Regions from separate parts of the Homo sapiens genome. Here regions 2, 3 and 4 are each reported to be linked to region 1. The links are microRNA targets in miRTarBase. Many come from high-throughput screens and were not tested one by one. Region 1 holds a microRNA gene; each other region holds the end of a gene's coding sequence.

Region 1 (4,572 bases):
TTTCAAGACCACTTTTCAACTACTCACTTTAGGATAAGTTTTAGGTAAAATGTGCATCATTATCCTGAATTATTTCAGTTAAGCATGTTAGTTGGTGGCATAAGAGAAAACTCAATCAGATAGTGCTGAAGACAGGACTGTGGAGACACCTTAGAAGGACAGATTCTGTTCCGAATCACCGATGCGGCGTCAGCAGGACTGGCCTAGCGGAGGCTCTGGGAGGGTGGCTGCCAGGCCCGGCCTGGGCTTTGGGTCTCCCCGGACTACCCAGAGCTGGGATGCGTGGCTTCTGCTGCCGGGCCGACTGGCTGCTCAGGCCCCAGCCCTTGTTAATGGACTTGGAGGAATGATTCCATGCCAAAGCTTTGCAAGGCTCGCAGTGACCAGGCGCCCGACATGGTAAGAGACAGGCAGCCGCCGCTGCTGCATTTGCTTCTCTTAAAACTTTGTATTTGACGTCTTATTTCCACTAGAAGGGGAACTGGTCTTAATTGCTTGATGAAGAGCAGGAGACTCATTTATGTGAGTCTTTTGAGTGACCATTGTCTGGGTCACTCCCATTTAACTTTCCCTAAAGCCCATTTGAAGGAGAGGTCGCACGAGCTGCTCCACAACCTCTGAATGGGGATGGCATGGGTAATGATGCTTGAGAACATACCAAGCCCCACTGGCATCGCCCTTGTCTAAGTCATTGACTGTAGGTCATCATCGCACCCTTGAAAGTAGCCCATGCCTTCCAAAGCGATTTATGGTAAATGGCAGAATTTTAAGTGGCAAATTCAGATAAAATGCATTTCTTGGTTGTTTCCAATGATGACTGTTATCTAGAGGGAATTTAAAGGCAGGGGTTTACTGCAGACTCAGAAGGGAGGGGATGCTCCGGGAAGGTGGAGGCTCTGAGCATCTCAATACCCTCCTCTTGGTGCAGAAGATATGCTGCCACTTCTAGAGCAAGGGGACCTGCTCATTTTTATCACAGCACAGGCTCCTAAATTCTTGGTCTCATTCTCAAGATGTTTTAATGACTTTAAAGCAGCAAAGAAATATTCCACCCAGGTAGTGGAGGGTGGTAATGATTGGTAATGCTTTGGAACCAAAACCCAGGTGGCGCTGGGGCAGGACTGCAGGGAACTGGGGTATCAAGTAGAGGGAGACAAAAGATGGAAGCCAGCCTGGCTGTGCAGGAACCCGGCAATGAGATGGCTTTAGCTGAGACAAGCAGGTCTGGTGGGCTGACCATTTCTGGCCATGACAACTCCATCCAGCTTTCAGAAATGGACTCAGATGGGCAAAACTGACCTAAGCTGACCTAGACTAAACAAGGCTGAACTGGGCTGAGCTGAGCTGAACTGGGCTGAGTTGAACTGGGTTGAGCTGAGCTGAGCTGAGCTGGGCTAAGTTGCACCAGGTGAGCTGAGCTGAGCTGGGCTTGGCTGCACTAAGCTGGGCTGAGCTGGGCTGAGCTGGGCAGGGCTGGGCTGAGCTGAGCTGGGCTGGGCTGAGCTGGGCTGGGCTGGGCTGGGCTGAGCGGGTCTGAGCGGGGCTGAGCTGAGCTAGGCTGGGCTGGGCTGAGCTGGGCTGAGCTGGGCTGAGCTGGGCTGAGCAAGGCTAGGCTGAGCTGGGCTGAGCTGAGCTGGGCTGAGCAAGGCTAGGCTGAGCTGAGCTGAGCTGGGCTGCGCTGAGCTGGGCTGGGCTGCGCTGAGCTGGGCTGGGCTGAGCTGGGCTAGGCTGGGCTGAGCTGGGCTGAGCTAGGCTGGGCTGGGCTGGGCTGAGCGGGGCTGAGCGGGGCTGAGCTGAGCTAGGCTGGGCTGAGCGGGGCTGAGCTGAGCTAGGCTGGGCTGGGCTGGGCTGAGCCAAGCTGAACCGGGTTGAGCGTGCTGTGCTGGGCTGAGCCAAGCTAGGCTGAGCTGAGCCAAGTTGAGCTTAGCTGGGCTGAGCTAACCTGGGCAGGGCTGAGCTGGGCTGAGCTAACCTGGACTGGGGCTGAGCTAACCTGGGCAGAGCTGAGCTGGGCTGAGCTAACCTGGGCTGGGGCTGAGCTAACCTGGGCTGGGCTCAGCTGAGCTGAGCTACGCTGGGCTGGGCTGGGCTGAGCCGAGCTGAACTGGGCTGAGCAGGCTGTGTCGGGCTGAGCCAAGCTGGGCCGAGCTCAGCAGAGCTGAGCCGAGCTGAGCTTAGCTGGGCTGAGCTAACCAGGGCTGGGCTGAGCTGGGCTGAGCTGAGCTGAGCTGAACTGGGCTGAACGGGCTGAGGCGAGCAGGGCCGAGCTGAGCAGAGCTAAGCCGAGGCTGGGCTGGGCTAACCTGGGCTGGGCCGAGCTGAGCAGAGCTAAGCCGAGGCTGGGCTGGGCTAACCTGGGCTGGGCTGAGCTGAGCTGGGTTGGGCAGGGCTGGGCTGGGCTGAGCTAAGCTGAACTAGGGTGAGCTGGGCCGAGCCAGGCTGGTTTGGGCTGAGTTGAGCTGACCTGGACTGGGGCTGAGCTAACCTGGGCTGGGCTCAGCTGAGCTGAGCTACGCTGGGCTGGGCTGGGCTGAGCCGAGCTGAACTGGGCTGAGCAGGTTGTATCAGGCTAAGCCAAGCTGGGCCAAGCTCAGCAGAGCCGAGCCGAGCTGAGCTTAGCTGGGCTGAGCTAACCAGGGCTGGGCTGAGCTGGGCTGAGCTGAGCTGAGCTGAACTGGGCTGAACGGGCTGAGGCGAGCAGGGCCGAGCTGAGCAGAGCTAAGCCGAGGCTGGGCTGGGCTAACCTGGGCTGGGCTGAGCTGAGCTGGGTTGGGCAAGGCTGGGCTGGGTTGAGTTGGGCTGAGCTAAGCTGAGCTAGGGTGAGCTGGGCTGAGCCAGGCTGGATTGGGCTGAGTTGAGCTGACCTCAACTGAGCTGACCTAGGCTGAGCTGAGCTGAGCTGAAGTAGGCTGTGCTGGGCTGAGCTGGGATGACCTGGGCTGGGCTGAGCTGATTTGGGCTGGGTTGAGCAGACCTGGGCTGAGCCGGGTTGAGCTGAGCTGAACCAGGATGAGCTGGGCTGAGCTGAGCTGGGCTGGGTGGTCCAGGCTGGGCTGACCTGGACCAGGCTGGGCCAGGTTGAGCTGGGCTAAGCCGAGCTGAGCTGAGCTGAGCTGGGATGATCTGGGCTGGGCTGGGCTGGGCTGAGCTGACCTGGGCTGGGCTGGGCTGAGCTGAGCTGAGCTGAGTTAAGCTGAGCTGAGCTGAACTGGGCTGTGCTGAGCTAGGCTGGGCTGGGCTGAGCTGGGCTGGGCTGGGCTGAGCCAGATTGTGCCTGGCTGAACTGAGCTGGGCTAAGCTGAGCTGGGCTGAGCTGGGCTGAGCTGAGCTGGGCTGAGTGGGGCGGGGCTGAGCTGAGCCGGACTGGGCTGGGCTGGGCTCAGCTGAGCTGAGCTGAACTGGGCTGGGCTGAACTGGGCTGGGCTGAGCTGAGCTGAACTGGGCTGGGCTGAACTGGGCTGGGCTGAGCTGAGCTTGGATGAGCTGGGCTGAACTGGGCTGGGTTGAGCTGGGCTGGGCTGAGTTGAGCCAGACTGATCTGGGCTGAGCCGAGCTGGGTTAAGCCGAGCTGGGTTGGGCTGGGCTGGGTTGGGCTGGGCTGAGCCGGACTGGGTTGGGCTGAGCTGAGCTGGACTGGGCTGAGCTGAGCTGGTCTGGGCTGGCTGAGCTGAGCTGTGTTGAGCCAAGCTAGGCTGGGCTGGGCTGAGCTGGGCTGAACTGGGCTGAGCGGAGCTGAGCTGAGCTGGGCTGGGTTGAGCAGAGCTGGGGGCTGAGCTGGGCTGGGCTGGGCTGAGTTAAGCTGGGCTGACCTGGGCTGAGTTAAGCTGGGCTGACCTGGGCTGAGCTAAGCTGGGTTGAGCCGATCCGGGCTGGGCTGGGCTGGGCTGAGCCAGGCTAGGTTGAGCTGGGCTGGGCTGGGCTCTGCTGTGCTGTGCTGAACAGGGCTGAGCTGAACTGAGCTGAGCTGGGCTGAGCTGGGCTCTGCTGTGCTGTGCTGAGCAGGGCTGAGCTGAACTGTGCTGAGCTGGGTTGAGCTAAGCTAGGCTGGGCTGGGCTGAGCTGGGATGAGCTGGGCTGGGCTGGGCTGGGCTCTGCTGTGCTGTGCTGAACAGGGCTGAGCTGAACTGAGCTGAGCTGGGCTGAGCTGAGCTCTGCTGTGCTGTGCTGAGCAGGGCTGAGCTGAACTGGGCTGAGCTGGGCTGAGCCGGGCTGAGTTGAGCAGAGCTGGGTTGAGCAGAGCTGGGCTGGGCTGGGCTGAGTTGAGCCAGGCTGACCTGGGCTGAGCCAAGCTGGGTTGAGCCAAACTGGGCTGGGCTGGGCTGAGCCAGGCTGGATTGAGCTGGGCTGGGCTGGGCTAAGCTGGGCTGTGCTGCACTGAGCTGGGCTGAGCTGGGTTGAACTGTGCTGAGCTGAGCTGGGCTGTGCTGAACTATGCTTAGCTGGGCTGGGCTATACTGGGCTTAGCTGGGCTGGGCTAAACTGGGCTTAGCTGGGCTGGGCTATACTGGGCTTAGCTGGGCTGGGCTATACTGGGCTTAGCTGGGCTGGGCTATACTGGGCTTAGCTGGGCTG
Region 2 (4,572 bases), not on the chromosome of region 1:
ATCAACCCAGTGGGAAAGAAAAGATAATCCTATTTTTCAGTTTTCTAATTTTTTTTTTTTTTTGAGACGGAGTCTAGCTCTGTCGCCCAGGCTGGAGTACAGAGGTACAATCTCAGCTCACTGCAACCTCCGCCTCCTAGGTTCAAGCGATTCTCCTGCCTCAGCCTCCCGAGTAGCTGGGATTACAGGCTTGAGATGGAGTCTAGCTCTGTCGCCCAGGCTGGAGTGCAGAGGTACAATCTCGGCTCACTGCAACCTCCGCCTCCCAGGTTCAAGCGATTCTCCTGCCTCAGCCTCCCGAGTAGCTGGGATTACAGGCACCCACCACCATGCCCAGCTAATTTTTGTATTTTTAGTAGAGACGGGGTTTCACTGTGTTGGCCAGGCTGGTCTTGAACTCCTGACCTTGTGATCCGCCTGCCTCGGCCTCCCAAAGTGCTAGGATTATAAGCGTGAGCCATGTGCCAGGCCCAGTTTTCTATTTTTAAGGCCTCCTTACTCCCATCTTGGAGTGAAAGATCTCATCCCATGATTAACCTCCCTTAACCCAAAATGAGGAACATCATTTTCTTTCTTTTTTTTTTTTTTGAGACGGAGTCTCGCTCTGTTGCCTAGGCTGGAGTACAATGGAGATATCTCCTTTCACTGCGCCTCCTGGGTTCAAGCGATTCTCCTGCCTCAGCCTCCTGAGTAGCTGGGATTATAGGCGTCTGCCACCATGCCTGGCTGATTTTTGTGTTTTTAGTAGAGATGGGGTTTCACCATGTTGGCCAGGCTGGTCTTGAACTCCTGACCTCAGGTGATCCACCTGCCTAAGCCTCCCAAAGTGCTGGGATTACAGCACTTTGAGCCACCGTGCCTGGCTGGAACATCATTTTCTCAGGAAAATGTTTATAATATATTTCTATGCCTGCCTCATGGTTCCAAAAAAGAATCCAGTTGACTATCCCTGTACGTCCAAGGATTACCCACATCCTTCCCACTGTAGACGAAGGCCACTTTTGCACTGACTTACCTCTTGTCTCAGTCTCTCATACATGACAGACAGATGTTCCTCCATACTAGGATCTCCTGACGGGGTGGCAGGGGAAGGGTGGGCAGTTCCAGGGACTTGGAAAGGTATCCAAGCCCCAGGATAGGGGCAGGGAGGTCCCTCAAAAAGGCTTCTAAGCCCATCCAGGCAGCCGCTATGCAACTCAGGTCCTGGTCCCTCCTCCCCCTTTCCTGGAGGGAGAACCACCCATGCTGAGCTGAGGGCCTGGATCTGAGGGAGAGGTAGTGGGGGAACCTGGGGAAGACGCTGGGTGGGAAGGCGTGGGGGCAGGGGAGACCAGAATAGAGGAGAAGATGGGGAAGTGGTTGTCGTGGAGTGGGGCCAAAGGGGTGGGAATGGTAGAGTCCCTGGATAAAGCTGGTCCTAAGGAGAAAGAACAGAAGGGAGAAAGATAAGAATCCACTTGTCTAACACCCCTTGATCCCCTGGATGCTCAACAGGCTTCCAATACCTATTCCTCCTGACAGAATGGATGGAATTACTATAGGAAAAAAGGGATGGATTCATCTCCATCTCTACTGAAAACAGGAGGAAACCATTTTATTTTATTATTTATTTTGAGATGGAGTCTCGCTCTGTTGCCAGGCTGGAGTGCAGTAGCACGATCTCAGCTCACTGCAACCTCCGCCTCCCGGGTTCAAGTGATTTTCCTGCCTCAGCCTCCTGAGTAGCTGGGACTACAGGCGCGCGCCACCATGCCCAGCTAGTTTTTGTATTTTTAGTAGAGACAGGATTTCACCATGTTAGCCAGGATGGTTTTCATCTCTTGACCTCGTGATCCACCCGCCTCTGCCTCCTAAAGTGCTGGGATTACAGGCGTGGGCCACCGCGCCCAGCCGAGCAAACTGTTTTATGTGACATAAATACCGGCACCTCCCAAAACCTAGCAGACATTTTACTTTTTTTTCTTTTTTTGAGACGAAGTCTCACCGTCGCCCAGGCTGGAGTGCATTGGCGCGAACTCGGGTCACTGCAACCGCCGCCTCCTGGGTTCAAGCCATTCTCCTGCCTCAGCCTCCCGAGTAGCTGGGATTACAGGCACCCTTCACCACGCCCGGCTAATTTTTGTATTTTTAGTTACAGATGGGGTTTCACCATGTTGGCCAGGCTGTTCTCGAACTCCTGACCTCAGGTAATCCGCCCACCTCGGCCTCCCAAAGTGCTGGGATTACAGGCGTGAGCCACCGTGCCCGGCCCAGTGTTGGAATCTTAAAGAAATGTGGCCGGGCGCGGTGGCTCACGCCTGTAATCCCAGCACTTTGGGAAGCCGAGGCGGGCGGATCACGAGGTCTAGGAGTTCGAGACCAGCCTGGCCAATATGGTGACACCCCATCTCTACTAAAGATACAAAACAATTAGCCGGGTGTGGTGGCGGGAGCCTGTAGTCCCAGCTACTCGGGAGGCTGAGGAAGGAGAATTGCTTGAACCCAGGAGACGGAGATTGCAGTGAGCCGAGATGGTGCCAATGCACTTCAGCCTGGGTGACGGAGCAAGACTCCATTTCAAAAAAAAAAAAAAAAAGATTCCAACACTGGGGGCAGTTTCACCTCTCTTATCGCAAGAATCATGTAATACATACTTGATGAGTTAACGAATAACAGGTTTTATTGTACTGTGGATTAAATGCTGTGGCCTGTACATCTCCATGATTAAGTGTGCGAGGCAAATGTACAGAGAAAAAAGAATATCCAGCTGAAGCTAGGAATCTGAATTCTATCATGTAACTTTAGGCATTCTCATTCCCTATGCCTCCGCTTCCTACAAATGTCCTATAAATGAGAACAATAAAGCCTCACTGGGTTATGAGGCCTATATGAAATAATGAATGTAAACAAAACGTAGCGACCTAGAAAGCAGTACATAAATGGAAGCTATTATCATTTCGGGCCCCTCTAATGACAGACACAACCTCAGGAGACAGTTAAAGGCTGGCCTTCACTCTCCTGGGTTTACCGACGTTGAAACTGCAAGGGGAGGTCACCCAAAGTTAGGCCTCACCCGAGTCCCTCCGCTCCCAAGGAACCCCCCAGGGGATCGTCTCACTGCAGGGAAGGCGGGCGGACCGCTCGGGTACCTCGGTCCCCGATGGTGTCCTAGAGGCGCCGTCTCTGCTGGGGGCGTGGCCATCTTGCCAGCCCGGGCGCAGGGGCCCGAACCGGGTGCACACTGGCCGGCCTTCCTGCCAGGACCGCTCTCCGAGTGCAAGACGGGCGGGCTGCTGAGGGCGCCCCGCGGGTCTGGTCTGGGCCGGGGAACTCCGGGACGGCGCCGCAGCAGGGCTACGAATCTCTCGGCCCCTGCCCTTCAAATCACCTCTAGGCACAGGTAACCGCGGAGAGTCGGGCGCAACGCAGACGCGCCCCGCTGCCTGGCCTTGACCCCGCCTGACCGCCCTCAAACCTGGGAGGACCGACGTCCTTGCGCGACAGGCCCGGCAGCGCCTCCCTCCCGCTCCCGCGACCCCTAGCCTGTCCACGCGCTGCAGGGCACAGGTGGGAAGGGGCGGCGGGTGTCTCTGCGCCTGCGCGGAACCCAGCGCGCGCTCCGCCCCACGCACCGGCTTTGAGGAGGGTCTCTCCCCGCCCCCTCTCCTCCCTCCCTCTTCTCCTCCGCTCACCTGGGGTCGAGCCTGGTAGGCGCGCAGGCAAGGGCCGAGACGCCGGGCCGCACCCCGGCTGGGCTGGTACATGATCTTCCGGGAGTGGAGAAGGAGCCTCCTGAGTCCGACCTCCGGCCTCCTCACAGGGGTGAGCGCGCCCCAGAGCCGGCTTCGTGAAGGGGAAAGGAGGCCGGGGCGGGGGGGTAGGGGGGGAAGGGGCTGAGGGAGGGAAACGGAGATGTCCCGCGCTTGCGCACTGCAGGCTCGAGGGAAGCGGCTGAAGCGCTCTGTCGGCTGTAAGCGCGCCTGCGCCCGCGGGCTCGGAGACTGCCTGAGTGCGCTTGCGCAAGTTACAGCCTCCCCCGCCCCCCCAAGCGCTGTATTCACAGCTGAGGCCTTTGAGCAAAAAGCTGAGCAAAAACAGGGCTGAAGGCTGAATGGGTGCAACGACAGTGAGGGGTGAGGCGGCTGAAATAATGAGTCAAATTTTTCAACAGCTCTTGTGATAAAAATAAATACTTTTATTGGTCTGGTTAAAAGATACAAATGACTTGAATCTGATAAGCCTGCTGAATGAATGAATGAATGAATGTATCCATCTATTATGAGGGTTGGGCTTTGGCTCTTTCCTGTAGTGAGGGAGAAATAATACTTTGAAGATGTTTGACGGGGCTGCGGTCACCAAGGCCTGGTGCTGCGACGTTCCTGCAGGTTTCGAATGAACCTGGCGTTGAGTATGTCCCCACCCACTGTCCAGGACTGGGCTGGCGGGGCCGGGGCCTGTGGAGGAGCTGTGTGCATGGGCTTCTCCCCAGACCCATCCTGTGACAAGGCCTGCTCCTCACTGGCAGACCTGGTAGGTGGGGAGATGGAGAGTGGGTTATAGGAATACTAAAGAGGAAATTAAGATTACAGACTC
Region 3 (4,000 bases), not on the chromosome of region 1:
CCCAACTACCACAGCCTGCCTTCCGCTCGCACTGATGAGCAGGCCCTGCTCTCTTCCATCCTTGCCAAGACAGCCAGGTAAGTGTCAGAGGACCAGGCCTGGGTCAGAGCTCCTCTATCCATATTAAAGGCTAGGATAGAAGGAGCCAGGCTCAGGACATGGGGGATGGGACAAGGTCACTGGGGAGAGGTGCCTCCATGTCCAGCCCTGCTCCAGTAGGCAGGAGGGAAACTGGTGTCAGATAGCCCTGGAGTTGGTACCTGGCACTGAGTCCTGTTTGTCCTTCTCGGAAGCACCTGTCATGTCATCTCTGTCTCCTCTCCCCATAGCAACATCATTGATGTGTCTGCTGCAGACTCACAGGGCATGGAGCAGCATGAGTACATGGACCGTGCCAGGCAGTACAGGTGAGCACCTGGCCAGCGTGGGTCCCTCAGGCTACTTGGGCTCCCACCCTCCATCACTGTTCCAGCTTTGGAGCCTGGCCCCTAGTCCAAGCTTCTCATTTGGTGCAGCCCTGGAGACTGACCACAGATCACTTGGGTGCTTCAGTAGTTATTCATGTCAGCCCTGTTTACCCTGTGACACTCTTGAGGGCGCTGAGGCCAAGGGAGATGGGCCTAGATTGAGTCTGTGATGAGCTGAGACCTTCCCTCCCAGATACCCCTCCTCGACACCCTGCTTCTCTGGCCTGAGGGGATGAGGCTTACCTGGGCTGGGCAGGGCAGACTGTGGCTTAACTGCCTACCCCCACCCCCTCTCTCTTGGTCAGCACCCGCTTGGCTGTGCTGAGCAGCAGCCTGACCCATTGGAAGAAGCTGCCACCGCTGCCGTCTCTTACCAGCCAGCCCCACCAAGTGCTGGCCAGTGAGCCCATCCCGTTCTCTGATTTGCAGCAGGTGAGACACCCCTCACCTGCCCCTGCCCACCCTTCTCACACTGCCCAGGGTATGGCAGAGGGTTCACCCACTCTGCCTCAGAGGAGGTAGGGAAGGTGGAGTTAGGGAGCCTGGTAGCCTTGTAGGCCCCAGCTCCCTCCCACCTCGTTCTCTTAACTTTTTATGTCTTTCCTATCTCCTTCCTGCAACCTTTATTGTTTCACTCCCCTTTGTTCTTTTCCTTCTGTCTCTCCCATCCCTGTCTTTCTCTTTGCCTTCCTGTTCCCCTTCATTCCCTCCTTCTCCATCACCATCTAATCTCCCCTCCCCATTTTTCCTGATTGCCCTCCTCACCTGTCTCTGTTCCTCTCCTCCCCGGCCCCTCTCTGTCTCAGGTCTCCAGGATAGCTGCTTATGCCTACAGTGCACTTTCTCAGATCCGTGTGGACGCAAAAGAGGAGCTGGTTGTACAGTTTGGGATCCCATGAAGAGAGGGGTCCTTGGACAGCTCTTCTCCTCTCTTCATCCCATCTCTACCCCACCCCCTTGGCCCCCAGCCTCACTGCGGCTTATACAGTACCCTAACCTGCTACTAATCACAGAGAAAAATGTGAAGAAGGAGGAGAAGAGGAAGGCTAGAAGCCTGAGCAAGTGAGGGTAGAACCTTTTGGGACTGGCCTTTGAAGCTCTGGCCAGGGATGGGGTGGGGGCCAAAAGGACAGAGCCTGGTATGTCTTCATAGTCATTGAGAATGTGGAGATACCAGTTTGGGTGGGGGGTGATCACCAGGGGACCTAGGGAGATCCCCTTCCCACCCTCTCTGTTGGCCTCAGAGTCACTCCTGCCCCCTCTCCCTGACTTGGTGCTCACATGCACCTCACTAGGGTTTGTGACCAGGGTCTGGATGAGCTTGAATTTGAATGAATTGAGTTTGTATTTCTAGAACCCTGGGTTTTTACATGTTTGGTCTTTTTTTGTTTTGGTTTGTCACCCTCGATAAAGGAAGTATATTCATCCATGTGCTGGTTCTGGCCCCTCTGTTCTACCCATTCTACTTTTGATTACTTAGGTCTATGAGAGTAAGATGGGGGGAAGGGGACATCTTCCAGGGATATTGAAGATGAACCCAAGAGACAAGGGTTTAGGGTGTCAGCTCTTAGCTGAGACCTGGCTTGGGCTAACCTCAGACTGGATGAGACTGTTCTTGTCCCTTGTCCAGTGATGATGGGAACACTGTCAAAGCTGAACAGACCTGAATCTGAGGCAGCTTTGATTCTTGGGGGCCCTGCCTCAGACTCAATGGAATTACCAACAGCCCCTGGGGGTGAAGGGAGACATGGCGGGTTGGGGGGTGGAGAGAGAAAGCAGACCAGGCTCTTCTGGGAATACCTAATATGGAGTCAGCAAGCAAATGTTTTTAAGCAGAAGATTCTTTTTATCAAATGAAATCTTAAGCAGAATCCCAGCATATAAAACAGAATGGAATTACTTTGATCTGATTGAAGTGGGGGCTGGTTTCAGAGATCATAGGCCATCTTCTTGGCCTGTCATGGAGGCCTGTGAGGCATCTCTACAGACCCTGGTACTCTGTGAAGAGTTTGGAAATTACTGATCTACTTTAACCCCCAAATCTCTAAGCTGAAAAGTACAAAGGGGCCCAGAGAGTTAGATAAATTTCCCAAGGCTGTGTGGTAAACCCACGTCTCCAGTGTCCCAGGCCAGCAGGCCTTTCCCTCAATTGCCTCCCTTTTTCAGCAAAATAAGACTAGAGCTGGCCAGGTGCAGTGGCTTATCCTGTAATCCTAGCACTTTGGGAGGCTGAGGTGGGCAGATCACCTGAGGTCAGGAGTTTGAGACCAGCCTGGCCAACATGGCGAAACCCCATCTCTACTAAAAATACAAAAAAAGGCTGGGCGTGGTGGCTCACGCTTCTAATCCCAGCACTTTGGGAGGCCAAAGCAGACGGATCACCTGAGGTCAGGAGTTCAAGACCAGCCTGGCCAACATGGCGAAACCTTGTCTCTACTAAAATATAAAAAATTAGCTGGGGGAAGCCGAGGTGGGTGGATCACAAGGTCAGGAGATGGAGACCATCCTGGCTAACATGGTGAAACCCCGTCTCTACTAAAAATACAAAAAATTAGCCAGGCGTGGTAGTAGGTGCCTATAGTCCCAGCTACTTGGGAGGCTGAGGCAGGAGAATGGCGTGAACCTGGAAGGCGGAGTTTGCAGTGAGCCGAGATCGTGCCACTGCACTCCAGCCTGGGTGACAGAGCGAGACTCCGTCTCAAAAAAAAAAATTAGCTGGATGTGGTAGCAGGCGCCTGTAATCCCAGCTACTCAGGAGGCTGAGGCAGGAGAATCGCTTGAACCCAGCAGGCGGAGGTTGCAGTGAGCTGAGATCGCACCACTGCACTCCAGCTGGGGTGACGAGTGAAACCGTCTCAAAACAACAACAACAACAACAAAATTAGCCAGTCATGGTGGCAGGCGCCTTTAATCACAGCTACTGGGGAGGCTGAGGCAGGAGAATCTCTTGAACCTGGGAGGCTGAGGTTGCAGTGAGCCAAGATCGTGCCACTGCACTCCAGCCTGTGTGACAGAGTGAGACTCCGTCTCAAAAAAAAAAAAAAGAAAAGAAAAGGCTAGAGCTACTTGCAGTTGCCTGAGTTAGAGAACATCTCTACAAGGTGTAAGTGACTTCTCATCTGCTCAACAGCTCAAATTATTTATTGTCAAACCATGCTGTCTATGCTTAGGCCTTTAGGACTACTAGGGTCGTGGGAGCCTCAAAGTGTATTCTGCTTGGTCCAGGCCTTCTTGGGCTTGATGTTCATGCGTTTCCAGACTTCAGCTGTGGTGCGGTCTGCTTTGGTGACCCCACTGAAGTCGAACGTGGTGATACGGGACAGGGTGCACAGCACATATTGCCTGTGGGGAAGACTTAGGCTGGGGGCCAGCACCCCCACCAGAATCCCCTTCCCCCTCCACTAGTTGCTGTTGTCTTCCCTGACTGCAAGGAATGGAGGGACTTGAGCATAGTTTGGGAAAGATTAGGTTTATCCTGACTGAGAGCAAGGAATGCTTAGAGGTCTGTTACTCCCTTCCCAGGTCCAAGCATG
Region 4 (4,572 bases), not on the chromosome of region 1:
TGAAACCCCGTCTCTACTAAAAATACAAAAATTAGCTGGGTGTGGTGGTGCATGCCTGTAATCCCAGCTACTCCGGAGGCTGAGGCAGGACAATCGCTTGAACCAGGGAGTCGGAGGATTCGGTAAGCTGAGATAGCGCCACAGCACTCCAGCCTGGCAACGGAGTGAGACTCCATCTCAGAAACAAAACAAAAAACCAAAAAAGCCATTACGGCCAAAATTTAGGCTGACTGTTCTAGGGCTGGCTGACTTCCAAGGTTCCTGGTCCAGCTTCCTTCTTCTTAGATTAAGTTCTGACTTAGAGTGTGTTCTAAGGAGGCAGGGGAGGAAATGGGAAGGGAAGGCCTCTTTTCAGTGGCCTCTCCCCAGATGACTCACTATAGTAGGAACTTCGGGGCAGAAGTCACACCACAGGCCTGGAGGATGGGAGGATAGGAGACACTTCCAGAAGCCACACTGACATAAGAACAGAATCTTCTCTTGGGAAGGCCAAGGGAAGTCAGCCACATAATTCCCTTTCCAGTGTGCCTTGATAAAACGTAAAACATGAATGAAGACACTCTCACCATTAGATTCTTCTGTTAGTTGATCTCAGGAAACAGAAACAAATGAAATCTGACAGTAACTTTCTGTAGCATCTTCAGGGAAAGCTGTCTCTTCACCAGGATGCATCCCCACCCTGGCCAGCTGAGTGACTCACTGTTCCCAAGAAGAGTAAGGACAGCATGAGACAGCCAAAGGCCTGCAGTGTGTTCAAGTCAATACCTGCTCACTCAACATTAGCTCACTGGTCACCCTAGAATTCTCCTAGCTTTGAAGGATGCACTAACACAGAACTGCAGCTGGGGGTGGTAGCCCGGGGAAGATCGCTTTCCCGGGGGTGATCCCAAGCCTATGGAGTGCATGGCTCCCCTGCCGGTGCTTCTTGCTAACGGGCTTGTCTAGGGACAACAGCAACAGCAATGGAAGTCCAACATGCACCCAGGTGAAGGCCTCACAGAGCTCCCCATCTGTGGGAGAAGCTCCATTGTGAACAGTTCGTCTTGTTCTTAATAGTTTGCCCAGACAGCTCACCTTCAGTACCCCAGAGCCTCCAGCCTGGCAGTCCGGGCTCCAGGTACCTCTAGAGGGCTGTGGCGCACACTATGCATAAGTCACAGGGACACTGGCATGAACTGGTAAGTCCAGATGACAGTGACCCAGCTGCTATAACTGTTAGCAAGTACCTGAAGCCTTAGCCTTGGCAAAACCCCCTACCCTCTACTTCTATTACTGTTGGTGGGCTACACATCAGGAGAGTAGACACAGGCCAGAGTCCATCATCCACTCACATCCACAGAAGGGTCATTGTTTCTTTTCTTGACCATTTCTCAGCCAGTTGACTGACCTATAAGGCCAGGAACCAGGGGTGCCCCAGGCCCTGTTTTGTTTTGCCAAATGAGGGACTTAATGAGTGCGGCCAGTTCAGACTTTGCTGGCCTTGGCACTTAGAAAAACTTGCTCGGGGCCCTGCCTGGGGCTCTCAAGAGCCAGTCATTGGAAAATGCTCCAAGTAAGATGATGAAAGACATTCTTGTAATAAGTAATTGAAGATACTGGCAGAGCTAACTTTTCTATTCTGACCATTTATAAAGATGACAAATGTTTTGGCCAGGCAGGGTGGCTCACACCTGTAATCCCAGCACTTTGGGAAGCTGAGGCGGGTGGATCATGAGATCAGGAGTTCAAGACCAGCCTGGCCAAGATGGTGAAACCCCATCTCTACTAAAAATACAAAAATAAGCCAGGCGTGGTGGCGGGTGCCTGGAATCCCAGCTACTCAGGAGGCTGAGGCAGAGAATTGCTTGAACCCAGGAGGTGGAGGTTGCAGGGAGCTGAGATCGCGCCACTGCACTGCAGCCTGGGCAACAGAGAGATACTCTGTCTCAAAAAAAAAAAAAAAGACAGATGTTTCAAGAACCAAATTCCTCATCAAACTTCCAAATCTGCAGACAACGAATGGGATTTTCTCTCAATTCAGAAAGAACAGAAATATCAACACAATTAGAACTATAAGGGTGTTTACGCATACTGGGAAGGAGACTGCAGAGAGGAAGGATACCCCACCCGGTCAAACAGTGAACATCCATCCTACCTGCAAACCACACCAGGCACGTCCGTAGGCACCTCCATGTACATGACATTCCTGGCTCTTGATATTAGGCCTCAGCGGCCCCCAGCCCCCAGGGGAACCTGCAGAGACTCTCGGGCCGCTCACTCCGGCTGGCAGTGGCGGGAGGCAGTGTGTGCTGCTCGCACCCTGCGTTTCCAGTTTTAGGAGACTGAAGCATCCCAGACAGCTGTTGACAATCAGGAAGACCCTACAAGCAGGACCGAGGGGACTAAGCAGCTTAGCAGCTTCCCTTGGTGACTTGGCAGGGGGACAATCAGTTGGCTTCTGGAACCCACTGCCTCCAGGAAGGGCAGCAAATAGAAAAAAAAGAAAGAAAACCACAGTATTCAAATATATGTCAGTCAGGTTAGACAAGGAGTAACTTGGATCAACTGATCCACAAACTGACACGCCTTGTACTGAACACCCTTCAGGGAAGACATGTGTCGCTCCGGTCCTGCAGTGCACGTGGACTGTGCAGAGCAGAGGCAAGAGTGGGGGGCGCCGAGGGCAGGCCTTGGTCTACATGGACAGTTTTAGGCACGTGATTTATAATACTTTGTGGACATCTAACAGGTTAATAAAATATATATTACATAAATGTCTCTCCTACTGTACACACTGCTCTCTTGTGCAGCCACTGTGATCTCATGCCCCAAACTCAACCAAAGGAGTGCCACGCTGAACCATGATGCCCGGACCCCTCCCTCTCACACCCAGACTTGTCATCTCCACACTGGAGGAATGAGGCGGGATGGCCAAGAATATTGCTTCTATAAAGCCCATATTCTGCAAAGGTTGATGAATCGCCAAAATACAACATTTAGCCAATGCCTACTAGAGTGGGTACACGCAGCAAATGGACAGAAAGAAAAAAAACAGAGCAAATCCTCCATCTTTTAATGTGATAACTTTCCACACCCTCTCCACGTAGAGGCACAAAGGAGCTTGTCTGGGAAGTTTGTCTGGAGTGTGCAGAAAGGTCAGGCTGGACTGCCTGTCACATCCTGAGACCACACTAAACCTTTATAAGCCATTGTCTCTGACCTGTATTGTAGCCTGAAAAATAAAGCAAAGTGAGTCAAACCTCTGGCTCCCACTTCCTGACCCACTGCTCCCCACACCCATCTTCAAGGACCCCTCCCGCCACAGTCCTGCCTCCTGATGAAGCGCAGAGCTTCCAGAGTGACTGTAGCCTCAGCAGGGCCGGTCCAGACATGGCTGAGTCCTGTGCTGCCCTGGAGGAGGAAGGTTCCTGGGATCCTGCTGCCCCGGGACTCAGGATCCAGCCTCTCAGTGCAGATGGATGGACTGTTCAACTTCACAAACTTCCGGTCCCTTCCCCTCCCCAGCTGCCCTTGTCTAGGAAGGCTCATGCTTTGCTTCAATGAAGCGAGGAGACCACAGAAATACCCATGGCTGTGGGGCTGTGACCAGCAGTGGCTGATTAGGGTGGAAACTGGAAAGCGTCACTGTCTCAGCAGAAGAAAGCAGGACCCCACACAGCCTGGGGAACGGCTGCCCACCCACGCCTCGGTGAAGACCACGGCCCTGGCGAGGCCCCAAGGTGCTTCTGAGAGATGAACGAGACACCTCAGTCATGGCACACTGGGTGGTGTGCTTCCCCTCCAAGTCCTGTCTTTGTTTTACACAGTCATATGAAAGACATAACCCCATTGCCCAAATCAAGCCTGGAGGAGATGCGTTACTATATACATTTTTTTCTTTAAAAAAATTTTTTTTTTTGGTGGTTTTCTTAAAAAAGCCTTTGAGTTGCAGGTCAGGTGAGTTGGTTCTGGAAGTACCGGAAGTTCTGTTGGTATGAGAGAGACTTGTCTACAGGCAGGTAAACCCAAGTTTGCCAAACAAAGGCAGTAACCCCAGCGACCAGCTGCTGCTGCTGCACGGTGAGGAGGAGGAGGACACCATGGACACGAGTGGAGGCTGGATGGGACAACGCAGTGGACATCTGCTAATGCTCTAACACGGGGTTGGTGTCACTTCTGAGAAGAGCGAGGTGAGTGGGGATGCTATACAAGAGGGCTGTACAAACTGGGCACTGGATAGGTAGTTCCTTTGGTGGTCAAGGTGGCTCTACCTGTCCTTGAGCTCTCGTGTCACTCGCTTGGTGATCCGTCCACACATCAGGCCAATCAGGAACAATATACAGATGCTCCCACTGATCACAGAGAGAATGTAGTTCTTAGATGGAGACGTCATTACTTGCATGGCAAGATCAGAGAAGCCATCTGCTGGGGCCACCTAGAATGACACAAGGCAATGTGATTCTCTGAGAGAGCACTGGGCTGGTGGCAGTGCTAGGTCTAACTTATCCCTCTCAGTTCCTAGTTTAATTTATGTCTTTTCTTTTGGAGAGGGAGGGCAGGAGATAAGAAAAATCAACACAGAGCTACAACTCT

The links. The annotated mature microRNA hsa-miR-4537 reads UGAGCCGAGCUGAGCUUAGCUG and lies in region 1 at 2,160-2,181, shown strand. An mRNA with a match to its seed (bases 2 to 7 or 8) in the 3' UTR can be bound and repressed. Matches are read on the target gene's strand: a 7mer-m8 pairs with bases 2 to 8, a 7mer-A1 pairs with bases 2 to 7 and ends in A, and an 8mer does both.
Region 2: miRTarBase lists ATAT1 as a target of hsa-miR-4537. The part of its 3' UTR that is shown has no 7-base or 8-base seed match.
Region 3: the mRNA of LRRC51 is a reported target of hsa-miR-4537. Seed matches in the 3' UTR shown: 8mer at 3,111-3,118.
Region 4: miRTarBase lists GLG1 as a target of hsa-miR-4537. The part of its 3' UTR that is shown has no 7-base or 8-base seed match.

Annotation. Positions count from the first base shown.
Region 1 is chr14:105,857,141-105,861,712 of GRCh38, reverse strand. It overlaps MIR4537 (microRNA 4537), which reads left to right and starts at 2,160; the gene lies at 2,160-2,229. MIR4539 (microRNA 4539) reads left to right here and starts at 4,141; the gene lies at 4,141-4,200. It overlaps MIR4507 (microRNA 4507), which reads left to right and starts at 3,538; the gene lies at 3,538-3,589. MIR4538 (microRNA 4538) reads left to right here and starts at 3,471; the gene lies at 3,471-3,548. It also overlaps IGH.
Region 2 is chr6:30,646,403-30,650,974 of GRCh38, reverse strand. ATAT1 (alpha tubulin acetyltransferase 1) reads right to left here. Exons shown (of 13, transcript NM_001413067.1): 13 at 4,154-4,506. The coding sequence ends at 4,332. It overlaps C6orf136 (chromosome 6 open reading frame 136), which reads right to left and starts at 3,842. Exons shown (of 6, transcript NM_001161376.2): 1 at 3,129-3,842; 2 at 1,016-1,417. The coding sequence starts at 3,743.
Region 3 is chr11:72,095,188-72,099,187 of GRCh38, reverse strand. It overlaps LRRC51 (leucine rich repeat containing 51), which reads right to left. Exons shown (of 6, transcript NM_145309.6): 6 at 2,293-3,809. The coding sequence ends at 3,668. The region is part of intron 5 of LRTOMT (leucine rich transmembrane and O-methyltransferase domain containing); the gene reads right to left. LAMTOR1 (late endosomal/lysosomal adaptor, MAPK and MTOR activator 1) reads left to right here. Exons shown (of 5, transcript NM_017907.3): 2 at 1-77; 3 at 330-407; 4 at 773-899; 5 at 1,274-1,896. The coding sequence ends at 1,366. Among named protein-coding and RNA genes, the nearest start is that of LAMTOR1, 6.1 kb to the left of the region's middle.
Region 4 is chr16:74,448,921-74,453,492 of GRCh38, forward strand. GLG1 (golgi glycoprotein 1) reads right to left here. Exons shown (of 26, transcript NM_001145667.2): 26 at 1-4,414. The coding sequence ends at 4,247. Among named protein-coding and RNA genes, the nearest start is that of CLEC18B, 30 kb to the left of the region's middle.